Linked DNA regions of Homo sapiens: region 1 is linked to region 2. The links come from fine-mapping of genetic effects on gene expression. Tissue or cell type: uterus. Region 2 holds a variant in brackets; the other region holds the start of a gene. All regions are shown on one strand. Distances are between the middles of the regions.

Region 1 (5,147 bases), 790 kb after region 2:
GCATCAGCCACCGCGCCTGGCCTTCTTTTCCTTTTCTTTCTTGTTTTTTTGTTTGTTTATGTTTTCGAGACAGGATCTTGTTCTGTTGCCCAGGCCGGAATGCAGTGGTGCAATCACAGCTCACTGCAGCCCCAAACTCCTGGGCTCAAGTGATCCTCCCACCTCAGCCTTCCAAGTAGCTGGGACTACAGGTGCGTGCTACCATGGCAGGCTAATTTTGTAAAATTTTTTGTATAGATGGGGTCTTACTATGTTGCCCAGGCTGGTCTCAAACTCTTGGGCTCAAGCGATCTTCCCACTTTGGCCTCCCAAAGTGCTGGGATTACAGGTGTGAGTCACCATGCCCGACTCCTTTTTAAATTTTTAATTAATTAATTAATTAATTATTATTTTGTAGAGATGTGGTCTGACTATATTGCCCAGCTGGTCTCAAACTCCTAAGCTCAAGTAATCCTCCCTCCTTGGCCTCCCAAAGTGAGCCACTGCACCCGTTTATTTTTTCAGCCAGGGATCTCGCTCTGTCACCCAGGCTGGAGTTTGTGGCATGATCATGGCTCACTGCAGCCTCCAACTCCTGGGCTCAAGCAATCCTCCTGCCTCAGCCTCCTGAGCAGCTGAGACTATGGGTGTGAGATATCCTGCTTGAGGTAGCTCCAGTTCTATGTTGCCTTTTTTTTTTTTCTTTCTTTTTTGAGACAGAGTCTCACTCTGTTGCCCAGGCTGGAGTGCAGTGATGCAATCTCGGCTCACTGCAACCTCCATCTCCTGGGTTCAAGCAATTCTCCTGCCTCAGCCTCCTATGTAGCTGGGACTACAGGCACGCACCACCATGCCCGACTAATTTTTTTGTATTTTTAGTAGAGACAGGGTTTCGCCATGTTGGCCAGGCTGGTCTCAAACTCCTGACCCCAGATGATCTACCTCCCCTGGGCCTCCCAAAGTGCTGGCATTAGAGGCATGAGCCACTGCACCTGGCCCCTACCTTGTCTTTAAACTCGTCCAAAGACCCCATCCCCAATTCCCTGACCTCCAACCCCCACCTTGGCCCAGCGTTGGTCCCTGTCCCTGGCAAGTTCTCTCAACTCCTCAAACTCGACTCCAAGCCATGTCCACACCAGCTCTATCACCATCCACAACCTCAATCTCAGCTAGTCCAGGAGAGCCCAACTCCAGCCAGCACTCCTATCCTGAACTCCATCCACGTCAACTCCATCTGTCCTCACCCCACGTTCTCCCCAGTGGCTCCAGCGCTGGGTCCCGTCCTCCCCCCAACCCACACAAACCTGCATGTACACCTTGGCTCTGTCCAGAGGTGCCGTGCCCGTGCGAGACACCGCCCCGGCCATAGCTCCTGAGAGTAGAAACTTCCACAAGGCCTCCTTGTTATCCACTTCCAGGACTTCCACGGGGACCATCAGCTGCTCTCCTGTGTCCAGTACCTGCAGGGCAGACCCGGCCCTCCCTCATCCTCAGCCAGGTTGGGGCACCTTCCCCAGACACACATCTAGGGCACCCACCTGGTGAAAGACCCACCCTGTTCCCCCAAGTCTGCATTTTTTTTTTTCGAGACGGAGTCTTGCTCTGCTGCCCAGGTTAGAGTGCAGTGGCACAATCTCAGCTCGTTGCAACCTCCACCTCCCAGGTTCAAGCAGTTCCTGCCGCAGCCTCCTGAGTAGCTGGGATTATAGGCATGCACCACAACACCTAATTTTTTTTTTTTTTTTTTTTTTTTTTTTTAGTAGAGATGGGTTTCACTATGTTGGCCAGGCTGGTCTCTAACTCCTGACCTCAAGTGATTCAACCCTCCCCCCTGGTTTTTTTTTGTTTTGTTTTTGTTTTTTTTTAGACAGAGTCTCACTCTATCGCCCAAGCTGGAGTACAGTGGTGCGATCTTGGCTCACTGCAACCGCTGTCCCCCTGGTTCAAGCGATTCTCGTGTCTCAGCTTCCCAAGTAGGGACAATGGTGTGATCTCGGCTCACTGCAACCTCCGCCTCCTGGGTTCAAGTGATTCTCTTGCCTCAGCCTCCCCAGTAGCTGGGATTACAGTGCCAACGTGCCGAGCAAATTTTTGTATTATTTTAATAGAGGCAGGGTTTCACCATGTTGGCCAGGCTGGTCTTGAACTCCTGACCTCAGGTGATCCACCTGCCTCAGCCTCCCAAAGTGCTGGGATTACAGGTGTGAGCCACCACACCCAGCCAATGTAATATAGACTCTCTAAGTTACTCATGGAGGATCCAAGGAGGAATACAAATGTAATTAGGACTATATCTAGACTCTTAATTTATTCTTATTTTTTGAGACAGAATCTCGCTGTGTTGCTCTGGCTTGAGTGCAGTGATGAGATCTGGGCTCACTGCAACCTCTACCTCCTGAGTTCAAGCGATTCTCCTGCCTCAGCCTCCTGAGTAGCTGGTACTACAGGCGCCAACCACCATGCCTGGCTAAGTTTTGTAATTTTAGTAGAGATAGGGTTTCGGCATGTTGGCCAGGTTGGTCTTGAACTCCTGTCCTCAAGTGACCCATCCACCTCAACCTCCCAAAGTGCTGGGATTACATGTGTGGAGCCATCGCGCCCTGCCTCCCTGCCCCACCCTGCTTCAAGGTGGAATTCTAGGTCCGCTAGCAGGGGAGTGGGCCTGTAGAGGGCGTGGGTAGCCTGGCCTCTCCCTGTAGTCCTGACCAGAGGTGCCGGGACACTGGTGTTTCCTAAACTCACCTGCTGTGACGGGAGATGTTCAAGGTTGTTGTCATGCATGTGGCCAAACGCGTACCCATACACGTGTGTACAGCCAGGGTTCCAGGATGGGGGTGGAGGCGGAGGTTGGGGGGGAGGCGGGGCTTTGATGAGTAAGGTCTTGACCCTCCTAAACAGTGTCTGGATCCTAGAGCAAGTGTTCTGAGGTTCCCCAGGCTGAGCGCCCATGGAGGAAGTTAGGACACCTGGCTTCAAATCCCTAAGCAGTTGTTTGCTGCTCCAGCTACCATGCGGGAGTGTCTAGTGGGAGGATTGTGTGGGGGACCAAGAGGAGGATGAAGTCACAAACGCCCCTGTGACCTTCCTAGGTGTGGTGGGCAGCGTGATGGCCCCCTTCCCCCAAGTATCCACCTCCTGATCCCCCAAACCAATAAATATGTTATCGTTATAAATTGAATTGTGTCCTGTCAAAATTATTATTATTATCGTTTTTTTTGAGACGGAGTCTCGCTCAGTCTCCCAGGCTGGAGTGCAGTGGCGCTATCTTGGCTCACTGCAAGCTCCGCCTCTGGGGTTCACACCATTCTCCTGCCTCAGCCTCCCGAGTAGCTGGGACTACAGGCATCCGCCACCACGCCCAGCTAATTTTTTTATTTTTTAGTAGAGACGGGGTTTCACCGTGTTAGCCAGGATGGTCTCGATCTCCTGACCTCATGATCTGCCCACCTCAGCCTCCCAAAGTGCTGGGATTACAGGCGTGAGCCACTGCTTCCGGCCGCAAAATTCTTATGTTGAAGCCCTATTTCCCAGTGGGTTGGAATTTGGAGACAGGGCCTTTGGGAGGTCCTCAGGGTTAGATGAACTCATGAGGATGGCCCCTGCAAGATGGAATTAGTTCCCTATAAGGAAAAGACAAACCAGAGCTCTTTCTCTCTCTCTGTCTGCCATGGGAGGACGCAGCAAGAAGGCATGGCAGGAAGAAATCCCTCAGCAGGAACTGAGCTAGCCAGCCACCTTAACCTTGGATTTCCCAGCCTCCAGAAATAAATGTCTGCAGTTTAAGACCCCGCTCTTTAGTGTTTCCTTATAGCAGCCTGGGCTGACTTACATTTGTTACATGGCAAAGGGGAATTAAGTTTGCAGATACAAATAAGGTTGCTAGGCCTGATGTGGTGGCTGACGCCTGTAATCCCAGCACTTTGGGAGGCCGAGGTTGGCAGATCATCTGAGGTCAGGAGTTCGAGACCAGCCTGACTAACATAGTGAAACCCAGTCTCTCCTAAAAATACAAAAATTAGCCAGGTTTGGTGGTGTGCCCCTGTAATCTCAGCTACTCTGGAGGCTGAGACAGGAGAATTGCTTGAACCCAGGAGACAGAGGTTGCAGTGGGCCGAGATTGAGCCATTGCACTGCAGCCTGGGCAACAGAGCGAGACTCCATCTCAAACAAACAACAACAACAACAAAACTTTGCTAGGCTGGGCGCCGTGGCTCATTCCTATAATAGCAGCACTTTGGGAGGTCAAGGCAGGTGGATCACTTGAGCCCAGGAGTTCAAGACCACCCTGGGCAACATGGCCAGACCCCTGTCTCTATAAAAAATACAAAAATTAGCTGGGCATGGTGGTCCATGCCTGTGGTCCCAGCTACACAGGAGGCTGAGGTGGGAGGGTTGCTTGAGCTTGGGAGGTGGAGGCTGCAGTGAGCTGAGATCTTGCCACTGAACTCCAGCCTGGGTGACAGAGCGAGACCCTGTCTCAAAAAAAAAAAAAAGAAAAAAAAAAAAAGAATTAAGGTTGCTAAACAGCTGATGGGAAATGGTCTCACTCTGTCACCCAGGCTGGAGTATAGTGGCACACTTAAGGTCAATCCCCTTGACCTCTCTGTTCAGGTGGTTCTCCCACTTCAGCCACCCGAGTGGCTAGGAACACAGGTGCGGACACCACGCCCGGCTAAGTTTTAAAAATTATTTTTGGCTGGGCGTGGTGGCTCACACCTGTAATTCTAGCACTTTGGGAGGCCAAGGCAGGTGGATCACCTGAGGTCAGGAGTTTGAGACCAGCCTGGCCAACATGATAAAACCCCGTGTCTACTAAAAATAACGAAAATTAGCTGGGTGTGGTGGTGCATACCTGTAATCCCAGCTACTCAGGAGGCTGAGGCGGGAGGATCACTTGAGTCCAGGAGTTCAAGACCAGCCTGGGCAGCAAAGCAAGAAATTTTTCTACAAAAATTTTTTAAAATTAGCCAGGTGTGGTCATGTGCACCTGTAGTCCCAGCTACTTGGGAGGCTGAAGGGGGAGGCTCCCTTGAGCACAGGAATTAGAGGCTGCAGTGAGCTATGATTGTGCCACTGCACTCCAGCCTGGGTGACAGAGTAAGACCCAGTCTCTAAAAAACAAAAAAAGTAGTCAGGCATGGTGGTGTGTGCCTGTGGTCCCAGCTACT
Region 2 (5,147 bases):
AAATTACTAAACTCTTTTTATTTTATTTATTTTGAGATGGAGTCTGTCTCTGTCACCCACACCAGAGTGCAGTGGCTCAATCTCATCTCACTGCAACCTCTGCCTCCTGGGTTCAAGCGATTCTCCTGCGTCAACCCCCCCACCGAGTAGCTGGGATTACAGGCACCTGCCACCATGTCCTTCTAATTTTTGTATTTTTAGTAGAGCTGGGGTTTCACCATGTTGGCCAGGCTGGTCTCAAACTCCTGACCTCAGGTGACCCACCCACCTCGACCTCCCAAAGTGCTGAGATTACAGGTGTGAGCCACCACGCCCAGCCTAAAATTACTAAACTCTTGAAGAAAAACCTGGAGTTAAGCCATACCTTCCAATCGTTTTTTAGTTTCTTTTTTTTTATACTTAATCTTAGTCTTTTTTTTTTTTTTTTTTTTTTAAAGACAGTCTGTCTTGCTCTGTCACCCAGGCTGGAGTGCAGTAGTGTGTTCTCGCCTCATTGCAATTTCCACTTCCCGGGTTCAAGCGATTCTCCTGCCTCATCCTCCCCAAGCTGGGATTACAGGCGCCTGCCACCACGCCTGGCTAATTTTTTTGTATTTTTAGTAGAGACGCGGTTTTGCCATGTTGGCCAGGCTGTTCTCAAACTCTTCTCTTGACCTCAGATGATCCACCCGCCTTGGCCTCCCAAAGTGGTGGGATTATAGGCATGAGCCACCACGCCTGGCAAGTATTTTCTATTTAGAAAAACATGGTAATGCCACATATCTAAAACTGGAACAAAAATAACAGATCAGTGGAAGAGAATGGAAACAAGTAATCCCAGACATAAATACAAATATAATATTGCGGAAGCCAACATTTCAAATTGGTCGGGGGCAAGTACTATTTAGTCAGTGGTGCTGGGAAATCAGTTTCCAAATGGGACAACTATTGGGAAAATAGTCTCACTCAACATGAAACTGAGAGAATAAATGTTTAAAACTTCAAAAGAACTAAATACAGGTGTATATTATTTAGCCTTCAGTATGGAGGAGGACATCCAAGCATGAAGGTATAAACCACTTACATTTTAAAAACAATTAATAGCTTGGCCACATAAGAGTGAAATGGGCCAGGGCGCGGTGGCTCATGTCTGTAATCCCAGCACTTTGGGAGGCTGAGGCAGGTGGATCACCTGAGGTCAGGAGTTTGAGACCAGCCTGGCCAACATGGTGAAACCCCATCTCTACTAAAAATACAAAAATTAACTGGGTGTAGTGGCAGGCGCCTGTAATCCCAGCTACTCAGGCGGCTGAGGCAGGAGAATCACTTGAACCCAGGAGGCAGAGGTTGCAGTGAGCTGAGATCAGGCCACTGCACTCCAGCCTGGGTGACAGAGCAAGACTCCGTCCCAAAAAAAAAAAAAAAGAACAGTGAAGTGTACTCAAAACCTGTAAACAAAATTTAAAAACTGGTAAAGAACTGGGAAAATATGTTTTGTACATATGATATATAAACTTCAAATGATGGGGGATGGAGCCGAAGTGTTTTGTTTGTTTGTTTTGTTTTGTTTTTGAGATGGAGTTTTGCTTTTGTTGCCCAGGCTGGAGTGCAACGGCAGGATCTCGGCTCACCGCAACCTCCACCCCCTGGGTTCAAGCGATTCTCCTGCCTCAGCCTCCCAAGTAGCTGGGATTACAGTCATGCCCCACCACACCTGGCTAATTTTGTTTTTTGTTTTTTTGGTTTTTTTTAGTAGAGACAGGGTTTCTCCATGTCAGTCAGGCTAGTCCCGAAATCCTGACCTCAGGTGATCCGCCTGCCTCGGCCTCCCAAGTGCTGGGATTACAGGCGTGAGCCACCGCGCCTGGCTGGAGCCGAAGTTTTTAAATAGTGGGGTGTAAATCAGAAATTTTTAGAAAAGTACAGGTGATCAACAACAAAAAGCAAATGATTCAAAGCAATTTGAGTAGTCAGGAGATAAATTCGTGTTAAAACAGTATTCCTTTTCTTACCTAGCATATTGGCAAAGATAAAGAAAAATAGCAAATTTTTAACAGAGATTCAAGAAAGATTGGCTTTTTTTTTTTTTTTTTTTTTTTCTGGAGATGGAGTCTCGCTCTGTTGCCAGACTGGAGTGCAGTGGTGTGATCTCGGCTAACTGCAACCTCTGCCTCCCGGATTCAAGCGATTCTCCTGCCTCAGCCTCCCGAGTGGCTGGGACTACAAGTGCACGAGATTGGCACTTTTTAATTCGCTGTTGATGGAAATGTATAAGTTAAAAAAAAACCTTCCTCTGCAATTTTTGTTTTGTTTTGTTTTGTTTTTGAGACAGAGTCTTGCTCTGTCATCCAGGCTGGAGTGCAGCGGCACGATCTCAGCTCACTGCAACCTAAACCTCCAGAGTTCAAGCGATTTTCCTGCCTCCGCCTCCTGAGTAGCTGAGATTACTGGCAACCGCCACCACAACCAGCTAGTTTTTTGTATTTTTAGTTGAGACAGGGTTTCGTCAGGTTGGCCAGGCTGGTGTCAAACTCCTGACCTCAAGTGATCCACCTGTCTCGGCCTCCTAATGTGCTGGACTTAACAGGCATGAGCCACCGTGCCCAGCCCCTCTGGAGTATCTTGATAGTATGTGGGTTTTTTGTTTTTCTTTTTTTTTTTTTTTTAACCGAGTTTCGCTCTTGTTGCCCAGGCTGGAGTGCAGTGGCGCAGTCTCGGCTCAGTGCAACCTCCGCCTCCTGGGTTCAAGTGATTGTCCTGTATTTTTAGTAGAGACGGGGTTTCACCATGTTTTCCAGGCTGGTCTCGAACTCCTGACCTCAGGTGATCCGCCCGCCTAGGCCTCCCAAAGTGCTGGGATTACAGGCGTAAGCCATCGCATCCGGCCCTTCTTTTTTCTTTTTAAGCATTAAAAATGTGCATACTCGGGCATGCGCAGTTTCTGTGGGAAAACATGTTCCTTAACTAAAAGGCAGCACATTTGCAACAAATAATTTTTCCCTCAAACAAGGACACTTGGGATAGGAAGAAGGGCAGAGCTGAGGACAGGTCTGATCCTGTTCAACTTTACTAAGAACCTGTTTTCTGCACTTCTACTTCCACAGCTCAGACAAGAACAGAACCTCTTCTGCTTGGGGGTGGGGCAGGGCTGT[C/T]TTGTGCGGAATGGCCTCATTCCTGGATTAGGAAGTGTTCCTAAGTAGTGAGGTGTCTCAGATGTTTATAAAGTGACCACTTGTGTAGTGCTCAGGGCATTGTTGCTTCTGTAAAGTGCGTATCATTTGATCTCATGCTGTAAATGATTCTGTCTTCAGGGCGCAAACCAGAAGAAGAGGGTGTGGAAGATAACGGGCTGGAGGAAAACTCTGGGGATGGACAGGTATGTGCAGCCTTGCGAGTGAGTAGCGTGGTGGATGGACCAGTGGCGGTCACATGATGGTTCGGTCTGGTTGTGTCACAGGAGGATGTTGAGACCAGTCTGGAGAACTTGCAGGACATCGACATCATGGATATCAGTGTGTTGGATGAAGCAGAAATTGATAATGGAAGCGTTGCAGATTGTGTCGAAGACGATGATGCTGATAACCTCCAGGAGTCCCTGTCGGATAGTAGAGAGCTAGTCGAGGGGGAAATGAAAGAGCTTCCGGAGCAGCTTCAGGAACATGCTGTAGGTAACCGGCAATGTCTCTAGAATGTGCCCTGAATGTATCAGTTCCACAATTAAAATAGGTGATCAGTTTCATATTGGGAAGTAAGTTGTTCTGTAATGCCAGTTCAGTAGAATAAGGGTCAGTTGGTTCAGATGATTCTGAACCAATTTGTTTTGTTGAAAGGTGATGTCTTATAACATTTCATATGTACTTGCTATCCATTTGCGGCATACAGTATGAGACATTTTGAGGACAACCATTCAGACTCTTCCTGTTGCCGGACTTGATCTGTGGTGTTATGGCCTAGGTACCTTGAAAGCATTGAACTAGGAAGAGGTTAGAAGTTGGTGTTTTCCTGTTAAGAAGCAATTGTTGAGCTGGGTGCCTTGATGCACTCATGTAATCCGGTAACTCAGAAAGCTGAGGTGGAAGGAGCAGCCCAGGAGTTCAAGGCTGTACTAAGCTATGATTGTGCAATTGAAGTCCAGCCTGGGTGGCAGAGTCTGACAGAACCCTATCTCTTGTTTAAAACAAACAAACAAAAAAAAAAACACAGCCAGTTGATACCTATCTTAAGAGTTAACCTCAAGTATTAACCTGGATGTTGTTTTTAAACCTAAATTTTTTTCCTGTTAGAAACATATCAAATGGATAGTAAGATTATAGTGGGTAGTATTTCCTGAATACTACCTACCAGGCATTGGCATTATGCCCTTCCTTTCTTTTTTTTTTTTTTTTTTTTTTTTTTCTGAGACAGAGTTTTGCTGTTGTTGCCCAGGCTGGAGTGCAGTGGCGCGATCTCAGCTCACTGCAACCTCTGCCCCCTGGGTTCAAGTGATCTCCTCCCTCAGCCTCCCAAGTGAGTAGCTGGGATTATAGGCGCCCACCACCAAGCCCGACTAATTTTCTTGTATCTTTAGTAGAGACGGTTTTCACCATGTTGGCCAGGCTGGTTTTGAACTCTTGACCTCAGGTGATCCGCCTGCCTCAGACTCCCAAAGTGCTGAGATTACAGGTGTGAGCCACCGCGCCCAGCATGTGCCCTTTAATTCTTCTAATAGCAACATGAGGTGCTGTTGTCCCCATTTTCAGTTGAGGAAATTGGGAAGGCAAGAACTAAAAAACATCTCCAGATGACACACAGCTCATAACAGAATAAGAACTAAGATCAGGCTAATTCCAGAGGCCATGTACTTAACTTATGTACGATGTTGTCTTGGTGCCATTAATTTGATATTAATTTCATTTACCTGATGATTAATGTTTGTCAGACAGAAAAAGTGATGCATATGAGAAGCTGTGGGGCCCTTTCTGTGTTGGCTCGTGGGGGGCCCTGTTCTTGTCCTGGTCCTTAGGTCTTCCGCAGTGAGTGCTTCTCAAGCAGTCTTGGTGGACAGAAACCTTGTTGTATGCCAGTCAATCCGCTTCTGCATTTCTTCAGAATATTTTTGCATTTCCTCTTGGAACTGATTCCAAGTATCCTTAGAGGTAGCAGATTGTCATATTTGAATGGAGGATTTG

Evidence for each region. PIP is the estimated chance that this variant, and not a neighbour inherited with it, causes the effect.
Region 1: SLC25A41 starts here. The variant in region 2 is fine-mapped to the expression of SLC25A41 in uterus (GTEx, PIP 0.96).

The regions. Positions count from the first base shown.
Region 1 is chr19:6,430,766-6,435,912 of GRCh38, forward strand. SLC25A41 (solute carrier family 25 member 41) reads right to left here and starts at 2,998. Exons shown (of 7, transcript NM_173637.4): 1 at 2,722-2,998; 2 at 1,284-1,439. The coding sequence starts at 2,928.
Region 2 is chr19:5,638,304-5,643,450 of GRCh38, forward strand. It overlaps SAFB (scaffold attachment factor B), which reads left to right. Exons shown (of 21, transcript NM_001201338.2): 3 at 3,291-3,355; 4 at 3,437-3,643. Among named protein-coding and RNA genes, the nearest start is that of SAFB, 18 kb to the left of the region's middle. The variant C/T (reference allele first, on the strand shown) is at 3,132.